Homo sapiens: one gene and its partners. The protein of the gene in region 3 purifies or fractionates together with the protein of the main gene of each other region. This does not show direct contact. Each region holds a gene or a part of one and is shown on either strand. Other genes may lie near its edges. The genes, in order: MTM1, PLEKHG3 and MTMR10.

What was found.
Region 1: the proteins of MTMR10 (region 3) and MTM1 purify together in Homo sapiens (affinity purification with mass spectrometry, with the first as the bait; one large-scale study listed by BioGRID). This does not show direct contact.
Region 2: the proteins of MTMR10 (region 3) and PLEKHG3 purify together in Homo sapiens (affinity purification with mass spectrometry; one large-scale study listed by BioGRID and IntAct). This does not show direct contact.

What each region holds. Positions count from the first base shown.
Region 1 is NC_000023.11:150,574,990-150,578,720, reverse strand, and holds part of MTM1 (myotubularin), read right to left. Parts: intron 1-3,731. UniProt on the Homo sapiens protein: Lipid phosphatase which dephosphorylates phosphatidylinositol 3-monophosphate (PI3P) and phosphatidylinositol 3,5-bisphosphate (PI(3,5)P2). Has also been shown to dephosphorylate phosphotyrosine- and phosphoserine-containing peptides.
Region 2 is NC_000014.9:64,710,756-64,714,486, reverse strand, and holds part of PLEKHG3 (pleckstrin homology domain-containing family G member 3), read right to left. Parts: intron 1-3,731. UniProt on the Homo sapiens protein: Plays a role in controlling cell polarity and cell motility by selectively binding newly polymerized actin and activating RAC1 and CDC42 to enhance local actin polymerization.
Region 3 is NC_000015.10:30,950,129-30,953,628, forward strand, and holds part of MTMR10 (myotubularin-related protein 10), read right to left. Parts: coding exon 3,434-3,500; intron 1,911-3,433; coding exon 1,840-1,910; intron 1-1,839.

The DNA of each region.
Region 1 (3,731 bases), on a different chromosome or scaffold from region 3:
ACAGAGACTATAATTAGGCCCTTCTTTTTGAGGTCCTAGCAATGGTCAATTGATTTTCAACAAAATTACCAAAATGTGTGGGCCTTTTCCCACAAATGATGCTGGAACAGTTTGATGTCCATATGGAAAAATAAATGAATCTTTACCCTTACTTCACAAAATATACAAAATTAACTTGAAATGGAACATAGACATACTAGTTTTATATTGCTGAATAACAAACTTAGCAGCCATAAACAGCACACATTTATCATCTCACAGTTTCTGTGGGTCAGGTGTCCAGGCACAGCTTAGCTGGGTCCTCTGCTCAGGGTCTCACAAAGTTGCAATCAAGGTAATGGCCAGGCTGCATTCTCATCTGGAGGCTCAACTGGGGAAAATCTGCTTCCAAGCTCATTCAGAGTGTTGGCAGAACTCATTTCCTTTAGGCTGCATGGTTGAAGGCCCTGGCTTTTTGCTAAGCAGCTTTTAGTTCCTAGAGACCACCTGCAGTTCCTTTCTATGTGGCCTTCCTCAATGTGGCTGCTCACATCAACAAGTCAGCAAAGAGAATCTCACCTCGGGGAGGACCCAGACCTTCTTTTAAGGGTTTTGTGCTGATTAATTCAGGCCTACCCAGGATAACTTCTCTTTTGATTAATTCAAAATCTACTGGTTGTGACCTTAATTATATCTGTAGAATCCCTACACTTTTTCCATATTCTAGTCTATATTCTAGAAGCAAGTCACAGGTCCTGCTCACACTCAAGGGAAGGGGATCACACAGGTATAAACACCAGGGGTTGGAAAGATCTGTCTGCCAAAACAGATCTAAACATAAGAGCAGGACTAAAAAAGTTCTGGAAGGAACACAGGGGAAAATTTTTGTGAACTTAGGTTAAGTAAAGATTTCTTAAAACACAAAAACTCAAACCATAACAGGGGAAAAAGTAAATAGGACTTCATCAAAATCAAAACTCCTTGCTCTTGCACAGGCACAGTTAAGAAAATGAAAGACAAACCACAGTTTGAGAGAACATGCTTGCAAATCACATATCTGATGAAGTACTTGTATCCAGAATATAAAAAGAACCCTCACAACTTCAGACAGACAATCCAATTTAATAAGAAATGGGCAAAAGATTTCAGCAAATCCTTCACCAAAGAAGATAAACTTAATGGCCAACAAGCACATAAAGACATGCTCACTATTACTAGTCACTAGGAATTTGTAAGTTAAAAATACAATGAGATACCATTATACACCCAGTCAAATGGCTAACATTTTAAAGGCAGACAATTAAAGCCAGTAGGAATGCAAAATGGCACAATGGCATGGCCACTTTGGAAAACAGTTTGACAGTTCCTTGTAAAGTTAAACATACACTAAACATATGGCCCAGCAATGCCACACCTAAGTATTTACACGAAGCAAATAAAAGCATGAGTCCACACAAAGACTTGTATGTGAATGTTCATGGCAGCTTTTTTTCAAAATGGCCAAAAACTGAATCAACTCAAATGATCAACTACTGAATGAATAAATTACATTATAACCATACTATGGAATACTACTCAGCAACAGAAAGTCAGGAACTGCTGATACATGCAACAACACAAAAATGAATATAAAAAGCAGTATGCTAAGTGAAAGAAGCCAGCCACAAAAATACCACATAAGCCTATCCTTGACAAATTTCAAAGAACTACGAGTGTTCACATCATATTCTTTCACCATAATGCAGTTAAGTTGTAAATCAGTTTTGAAAATACCCAGAAAATACATTTGTAAGTAAAAATATACTTCTAAACAGCTCGCAGGTGAATGAAATAATCATAATAGAAAATATCACAACTAAATAATCATGAAAATACTATGTTTTGAAACATCCAAACAGCAGAATAAATCTAAAGAAAGGAGGAGAAAATGAAGAATGATTCCTGGTATATTCTTTAAGTGAAAAGGGCAAGAGGCTGAATAGTGTATGAAATATGTTTTTGTGCAAGAAAAGGGGAAAATACATGTACGTGCTTGCTCAAATTTGCAAAAGATACTTAGAAGAACAAACTAATAAGATTGATCATCTACGGGGGGGAAAGAAACAGAATACCTGGTCAGAGATGGGGTGAAAGCAAGACTTTTCTGAATATACCTTGAAATAAATGTGACTTCAAAATCATATAAAGTTTTTACTCGTTAAAAATTAATCAAAAAAGCAGGGGAAAAGCCCTAAAAGGGAAACAAATGAACATAATTATATTATCAAGTTGGTGCCATAACCACAACTGACAAACCTCTGGTTAGACTAATAAAGAAAAAAGGAGGGCACAAACAAACAATAGTAGGATGCAGGAATGAAAAGACAGACACAGCTATAGATTTGGCAGACATTTGCTGGTAGTTTATAATCTTCCAGGCCCCAGGCAGCTCCATGTGCAAGTTCTAGCAACATTCAAGGAACCAGTAACTCCAATCTTATACAAACTTCCAGAGAACAGAAAAAGGGAATATCTCAACTCACTTTATAAGGCTAGCATAAGCATGATACTAAACTAGACCAAGACAGCACAGGAAAACTAATACCAAATCTTATGTATATAAGATGTAAAAATCCTAAAGAAAGTATTAGCAATCAAACCCAGCAGTAAGAAAGAACATGACCCTGTTGAGTTTATCCCAGCAATACAAACTTAGTTAATGCTACAAAGTTATACTAGAAAATCCCTTAAAATAGCCTACCACATTAACAAGTTCAAGGAGGGAAAACACAGGTTCTCCCTCACGCCTGTAATCCTAAGCACTTTGGGAGACTGAGGCAGGAGAATTGCTTGAGGACAGGAGTTTGAGACCAGCCTGGGTAACACAGTAAGAAGCCCTCTCTACAAAAACACAAACCAAAAACCTATCTCCATAAAGGAAGAAAAGGGGCTTGATAAAACTCAACATCCACTTATGACCGAAAAAAATGTACACTAGAAGTGCCCCTACACAAAACCTAGAGTAAACACAATACTTTATGGTGAAACATTGAAAGCAAGAGCCTTCTCAAGTAAAGATCTTGGGCCCCACCCCAGACCTACTGAATCAGAAACTCCAGGCATGATGCCAGGAATTTGTAGTTTTGCAAAAACCCCTCAGGTGATTATGATGTGGCTTGCTGCTCTGAGTGGGAGCCACAGAGCAACACTGTTGGCATCACCTGGGAGCTTGATGGAAATGAGAAGAAAAAGCTCTCCGGGCCCATCCCGGAACCACTGAGTCAGAATCTGTGTTTCAACTCGAAGTCCAGGTGATTCATAAGGCAATGAAGTTGGAGAAGCGCTCCTGGTAGTGCTGCACGCTGGGACCACTTTTTAAAAATGCAGATGTCAAGAGTCTCAGCCCAGATCAATTAAGTTCGAATATCTGTGGGCGATGCCCAGGGCAGCAAGTATGTAAAACTCCCCAAGTGATTCTAATGAGCAGCAGGAAAGGCAATCTCCTGGTCCGTGGTATTCCCTCTATGAGGAAACTTCTGTTTAGGGACTCTGCACCAGCTCTGAAAAGCCAGAGAAGAAAGAGGCATTCCTCGAGTTCTTTGAAGTTCCCCTCAAGAAAGAAGATTGCATTTCATACATATACCAATGGTGCCTTTTTAATATGGCTTACAAAACTAAAAACTGAAACCGAGAAAAAACCCTGTAGTCATGAGAGCTGCAGGAAGTTGCAGCGGAGGCTGCAAACCCAGAAGTCAGACTTGCCTGGGTTCAAA
Region 2 (3,731 bases), on a different chromosome or scaffold from region 3:
GGAAAGTGTAAGTGCTATGAAAAAGATAGAGGAGGGAAAACAGAATACTCTGAGAGATGGGAATTTCCACTAGCTAAGGAGGCCTGGGAAGGCATTAAAGAGGTGACTCTAGAGCAGAGAGACCTGTATTGTAAGAAGCAGCCAAACATGTGAAGCTTTGGGGGATGAGCCTTCCAACAGTCTTTTCCTCTACCCCACCATAGCCATCCACTCACATGTCTCATATGCCCCAGACCTCATCATCACCAATAAGTGCACGCTTCCAAAACCTTGCTTTGAAGTATCCCATCCTCTGTAACCACTGAAGAGGAACCTGATACAGAAATTTCAAACCACACAAGGAAACAAACCATCATAAGGAAGTCAGAAAATTGAACAAACTGGCACTCAAAGAACTAGAAATTAAAGAATAGGTCTACAAAAGATGTTTAAAGATGAATAGTTTAAATGATTGGAAATATAAAAGAGATAAAAATCTTAATAAAAGAAGATGGTAGTATAGGGGGTAAGGAACAGGCCAATTAGAAAAAGCAATACATGAAAATAAAATATTCAATATTGAAATATAAAACCCAATAGTTAAATAGAAAATTAAACACAGCTAAAGAGAGAATTAGTTAAGTGAAAGATAAACTGAAGAAATCATCCTGAATTTAATTCAAACAAATAAGATAGGAAATATAAACATTAATAGACTTAGAGGTCCACAGAGAAAAAAAAAGGAAATGGGGGAAGGTGCAAATTTCAAAGAGATAATGTATATGAACTTTCTAGAACTAAGGATAGACTTTAGTCCTCAGATTGAAGGCACACACCAAGCTAAACTTCAAATAAGCCCACATTCAGACATACTGTATATAGTATATATGCAGAACACCAAAGACAAAAAATATCTTAAAGGATGATAAGGAAATGTCATGAACTATATGCCAATGAATTGGATAACTTTGTTGAAACAGCCAAATTTCTAGAAGGGCACAAACCACTGACAGATTTAGAAAGAAAAAGTCTAAACAAGAGATTAAATTAGTAACTTTAAAACTTCCAATGAAGAAAAGCCCAGGACTAGACGGCTTCCCTGGTGAAGTCTACCAAACATTTAAAGAATAATTCATATCAACTCTTCACAAACTCTCACCCCACAAAAAAACAGCAGGAAATACTTCCCAACTCATTCTATGAGGCCAGTATTACCCTGCCATCAGGACCAGACAAGATATCAGAAAAAAGAAACCTACAATCCCACATTCCTTATGAATATAGACACAAAAATCCTCAACAAAATACTAACAAATTGAATCTAGCAACCACAACCATACATTATGACCAAGTGGGATTTATCCCAGAGATGCAAGATTAGGTTAACATCTAAAAATTAATTAAAATAATTCAGGTTGATAATAGGATAAAGTGTAAAAATCACCTGATCACTTCAATACACCCAGAAAAAAATTTTGACAAAATCCAACACTCTTCTATGATAAAAACGCTCAACAATCTAGGAAGAGAAGAGAATATCCCCAACCTTACACAGAACATCCATGAAAAACCCACAGGTACATCATAATCAATGGAGAAAGACAATGCTTTTTCACTAAGATTAGTAAGAAGACAAGGATATCCAGTCTTGCCACTATATTCGATACTGGAGTTCCAGCCAGGGCAATTAGACAAGAAAAAGAAATAGAAGAGATCTGGGTTGAAAAGGAAGAAATAAAACAATCTCTATTCATAGATAACATGAACTTGTATATGGAAAATCCTAAGTAATCTACCACAAAACTATTAGAACCAATAAAAGTGTTCAGCAATGTACCAGAATACAAGATCAACACACAAAAATCTATTTTATTCCTGTACACTAGCAATGAGCAATCATAAAATGGAATTAAGACTCCCATTTATAATAGCAGCAAAAAGAATAAAATACTTAGGAATATATTTAACGAAAGAAGTGTAAGACTTGTATGCTGAAAACCACAAAACACTGTTGAAAGAAATTAAAGAAGACCTAAAAGACATTCCTTGTTCATGGAATGGAACATTTAACATTGTTAATATGGCAATACTCAACAAACCAATCTAAAGATGCAATACAATCTCTATCAAAATATAGCTGATTTTTTTTTTGCAGATATTGACAAGCTGATCCTAAAATTCATATGGAAAAGCAAGGGACCCAGAATACCCAAAACAACCTTGAAAAAGAACCAAGTTGGGGGGCTGATACAACCTGATTTCAAAACTTACTACAAAGCTATAGTTATCAAGACTATATGGTACCGGTGTAAGGGCAGACATATAGATCAATGAAAGAGAATTGAGATTACAGAAATAAAACAACATATTTATTGGCAACTGATTTTCAACAAGGGTGCCAAGACAATTCAATAGAGAAAGAATAGTCTTTTCAACAAAAGGTGCTAGATCTTCACATGCAAAAGAATGAATCTGGACACCTATTTCAAACCATATACAAAAAAGTCAAAATGGGTCACAGACCTAAATGTAAGAGCTAAAACTATCAAACTCTTAGAAGAAAAGATAGGAGTAAATCTTTATGAACCTGAGTGAGCAATGGTTTCTTAGGTGTAACACCAAAAGCACTAGCAACTAAAGAAAAAATAAATTGTACTTCATCATCAAAATTTTAAACTTTTGTGTTTCACAGCACACTACCAAGAAAGTGAAAAGACAAATCACAGAATGGGAAAAAATATCTGTAAATCGTATACTTGACAATGAACTTGTATCCAGAATATATAAAGAACTCTTGGCCGGGCGCAATGGCTCACACCTGTAATTCCAGCACTTTGGGAGGCCAAGGCAGGCGCATCACAAGGTCAGGAGATCGAGACCATCCTGGCTAACAAGGTGAAACCCTGTCTGTACTAAAAATACAAAAATTAGCCAGACGTGGTGGTGGGTGCCTGTAGTCCCAGCTACTCGGGAGGCTGAGGCAGGAGAATGGCATGAACACGGGAGACGGAGCTTGCAGTGAGCCGAGATCATGCCACTGCACTCCAGCCTGGGCAACAGAGTGAGACTCCGTCTCAAAAAAAAAAAAACAAAAAAAAAGCATTCTTGTTTCAACTGAGGCAAACACCCTTTGGGATAACTGGCAATCTGCTTGGGTGGAGCCGAATTAAGATTGGACTCATCCAGGCTCTACTGTAACACAGTCAAACTTTGGCCAGCTGGAACCTCTGTAGAGAGAGGGCATCCAAAAAGCAGCATTTGCAAGAGCATGCAGAGTTTCAAAACAGTGTGGGGTAGGGCTAAGAGCGGGCTCCAAAAGTTCAAACCCCATCCCTGCCAAGTATTAGCTGAGCGATCCTGAGCAAGTTACCCAACTCGTGGGGACTTGGTTTCCTCATCTGGGGTGGGTGAAGTGGGTAAACCACCTACTTGGTCTTATTTAAAGGATTAGTGATATTATTACCTAAGTATCAACACTTAAAATTTTAGCCAACCTGACTGGGAATCTTTTAAAAATCCGTTACACACTTCCCTGCCTTCCTAAACAGAGTCAAGGGAACATAATTTAACCTTTTCTTGATGACTCTGGGTCACAATTACCAGCAAAGCATAAATTATCAAACTGATGATCCCCAGACACCCAAGGTGTGCCAAGTCATTCCCTCCACACCCCCTCCCTCCAAAAAAAAAAAGATCCCCGGCACTTCTGCTAGCACTTGCTTTTCCTGGAGTTTTTATCTCAGTCTGCTCTC
Region 3 (3,500 bases):
CCTTTTCTATTACAAATGCATGGAGAAATGGAGGATGAGTAGGGTTCTCCAATACGATGAGAACACCCACTGGATGAGAGAAATTGTGATTATTAGGCTCTGCATGCATTTGTGAGTTAAACACACACTCTGACTGTATCAGTTCAGGATTACTTTATATGACACATTACTATTTGATTTTTTTCTAAGAGTCTTAAAGATTTTTGCCTTGTTAAAGTCAATCAAGTTTGGCAGTTGTTAAATGTACTTCTGCAAGCCTGGCCAGGCACGGTGGCTCACGCCTATAATCCTAGCACTTTGGGAGGCTGAGGTGGGCAGACCACCTGAGGGCAGGAGTTCGAGAGCAGCCTGGCCAACAAGGTGAAACCCCATCTCTAGTAAAAATACAAAAATTAGCCGGGCGTGGTGGTGCATGCTTGTAATCCCAGCTACTTGGGAGGCTGAAGCAGGAGAATCGCTTGAACCCAGGAGGTGGAGGTTGCAGTGAGCTGAGATCGTTCCACTGCACTCCAGCCTAGGTGACAGGAGCGAAACTCCATCTCAAAAAAAAAAAAAGTACTTCTGCAAGCTTAAGCAACATTTTGTATTCATATACTATGCAACATGAGTATATAGTCTTCCCTCAGTATCCATGGGGAACTCATTCCAGGGCCTCCTTTGGATACCAAGATCCACAAATGCTTAAGTCCTGGATATAAAATGATGTTAATATTTGCATATAACCTATGCACATCCTCCTGTACACTTTAAGTTACCTCTAGATTACTTATAACACCTAATACAATGTAAATGCTATGTAAACAGTTGTTATACTATACTGTTTAGAGAATAATGACAACAAAAAAAAAGTCTGTTCATGTTCATTACGGCCAAAGCTTTCCCCCGCCAATATTTTCAGTCCTGGGTTGGTTGACCACAGATGGGGAAGCCATGGGTACAAAGGACCTACTACTGTATTATACGAAGGTAGTTTTTAGTCTATTGAACTTTATCTGCAAACTTACAAATTCTATTAGCTGTAAGTTATTTAATATGTAATTATCCTTTGCTTAACTGAAAGATTTTTACATCACCGTTTATTCCTACCAAATATTACATTACTAGCTATTCAGCAGTTCAGTCTAAATTTCTTCATCTCAAACTGCTTCCTTAGAGTCATAATCTAGCATGAGCCAGAAGGTATTTAAACTAAAACAAATTTGTACAAATTAGACAGCAAAATTACAGAGAGAGAATGCCCTGTCAAAATTAACACTAAGTATTAATCCATTAGGGGATGGGACCCACCCTTCCCATAAAATAGGAAGGATAATTTAATAAAGGGTAAAAACTGGACTACTTTCTATTCTTCTATTTGCAGTCCTTGTGCCACTGGTTTTTATTTATTTTTTTTTTGAGTCTTGCTGTGTTGCCCAGGCTGGAGTGCAGTGGTGCGATCTCTGCTCACTGCAACCTCCGCCTCCTAGGTTCAAGTGATACTCCTGCCTCGGCCTCCCGAGTAGCTGAGACTACAGGCGCACACCACCACTCCTGACTAATTTTTGTATTTTTAGTAGAGACAAGGTTTCACCACGTTGGCCAGGCTGATCTCAAACTTCTGACCTCAAGTGATCCGCCCGCCTCGACCTCCCAAAGTCTGGGATTACAGGCTTCAGCCACTGCGCCCAGCCTGTGCCACTGTTTTACTCAAATGATGTGCAAAATCTGTAATGTATTTGATGGTACTGTAGTAAATAAGAAATAGCTAAAACTGATGTGATTTACTTGAATGGGGACAAGCAGTAAACCAAGGCTGGCTGGTATGGTGGTCATGGTGCTTTCAGGAGTTACTTTAGTTACCTTGTAGGACTACAGAGAGATGTTTGCTTTCTAGCATGTATACAAGTTCTGCTGAATGCTTAAGGAATGCCCTGAAGAGAGAAAAGGAAAAGCAGTGTTAAAAATCAAATTTCCACTACAAATACATAAAGTACTTGAAATCAAGCAAATCTAATTTCTCACTTTACAGATGCTCTCTGATCATGATATTCCCATAACTCATGACCCATGATAACCCACTGTAAGCTGAAAATACCCTAAACTGAGACTGTGTGGCTGACTGGCAGCTGTGGCTCCCTGCTGCTACTCAGCATCACAAGAGAGGATTGACTGCTTTCTACTGAATGCACATAGCTTTCGCATTACCGTAAAGTTTCTTTAGTTACTTATACGATTTCTCAAAGGAGTATATTTTGTAATTTTTGTTTTCTTTTTAAGAGACAGGCTCTCATTTTGTCACCCACACTAGAGTGCAGTGGCATATCACAGCTCATTGTAACCCTGAACTCCTGGCCTCAAGTGATCCTCCTGCCTCCACCTCCTGAGCAGCTAGGACCACAGGCACGAGCCACCATGCCTGCCTAGTTTTAAAATTTTTTTGTGGAGATGGGCATCTCACTATGTTCCTCGGCTGGTTGTGAACTCCTGGCCTCAAGTGATCCTCCTGCCTCAGGCTCCCTAGGACAGCAGGCACATGCCACCATGCCTGGCTAGTTTCCAACTTTTTTGTGGAGATGGGGTCTCACTGTGTTGCTCAGGCTGGTTGTGAACTACTGGCCTCAAGTGATCTTCCTCCCCAGAGCTTTGGAATTACTGGCATGAGCTACCACAACCGGCCCCACTTTGTAAATTTTTTTTTTTGAGATGGAGACTTGCTCTATCACCCAGGCTGCAGTGCAGTGGCGTGATCTTGACTCAATGCAACCTCTGCCTCCCAGGTTCAAGTGATTCTCCTGCCTCAGCCTCCTGAGTAGCTGGGACTACAGGTGCGTGCCACCATGCTTGGCTAATTTTTGTATTTTTAGCAGAGACAAGGTTTCACCATGTTGGCCAGGCTGGTCTTGAACTCCTGACCTCAGGTGAGCCACCCGCCTTGGCCTCCCAAAGTGCTGGGATTACAGGCATGAGCCACCACGCCTGGCCTCATTTTGTACTTTTTCATCAGGGAAATTCATAAACCCTTTATGAAAAGGAAGGGGTTGACTTATGACAAAACTATAGAGATTGAGAAGAGATTAGTGGTAGTCAACAGACACAGATGGCGATGAGGGTGCACCTATAAGAAGGCTAGCACAGGGGAGCCTTGTCATGGAACAGGTCTGTATCTCCCTGTGGTGGTGGTTACGTGAACCTACACACGTGATAAAATCGCACAGCTGTGTTAAGGGCATGCACACAGACGACAGCATGTATGAACTGGTGAGTAAGAGCTATCCAGTGTCCCAGTGTCAGCTTCCTGGTTTGGATGCTGTACTCTAGTTACGAGATGTTACTATTGGGGGAAGTTGGATGAAGAGTAAGTACATGGCCCTCTGTGCTATTTTTGTACCTCCAGTGAGTCTGTAGTTATCTCAAAATAAAAAGTTAAAGGAAAAGAAAGTAAAGAAGTACAAACCTTACATATTCTAACCATCGAGTATTTTCCAGTGAAGATAACCATTTCTCTTCAGTTTCTTCAAAAG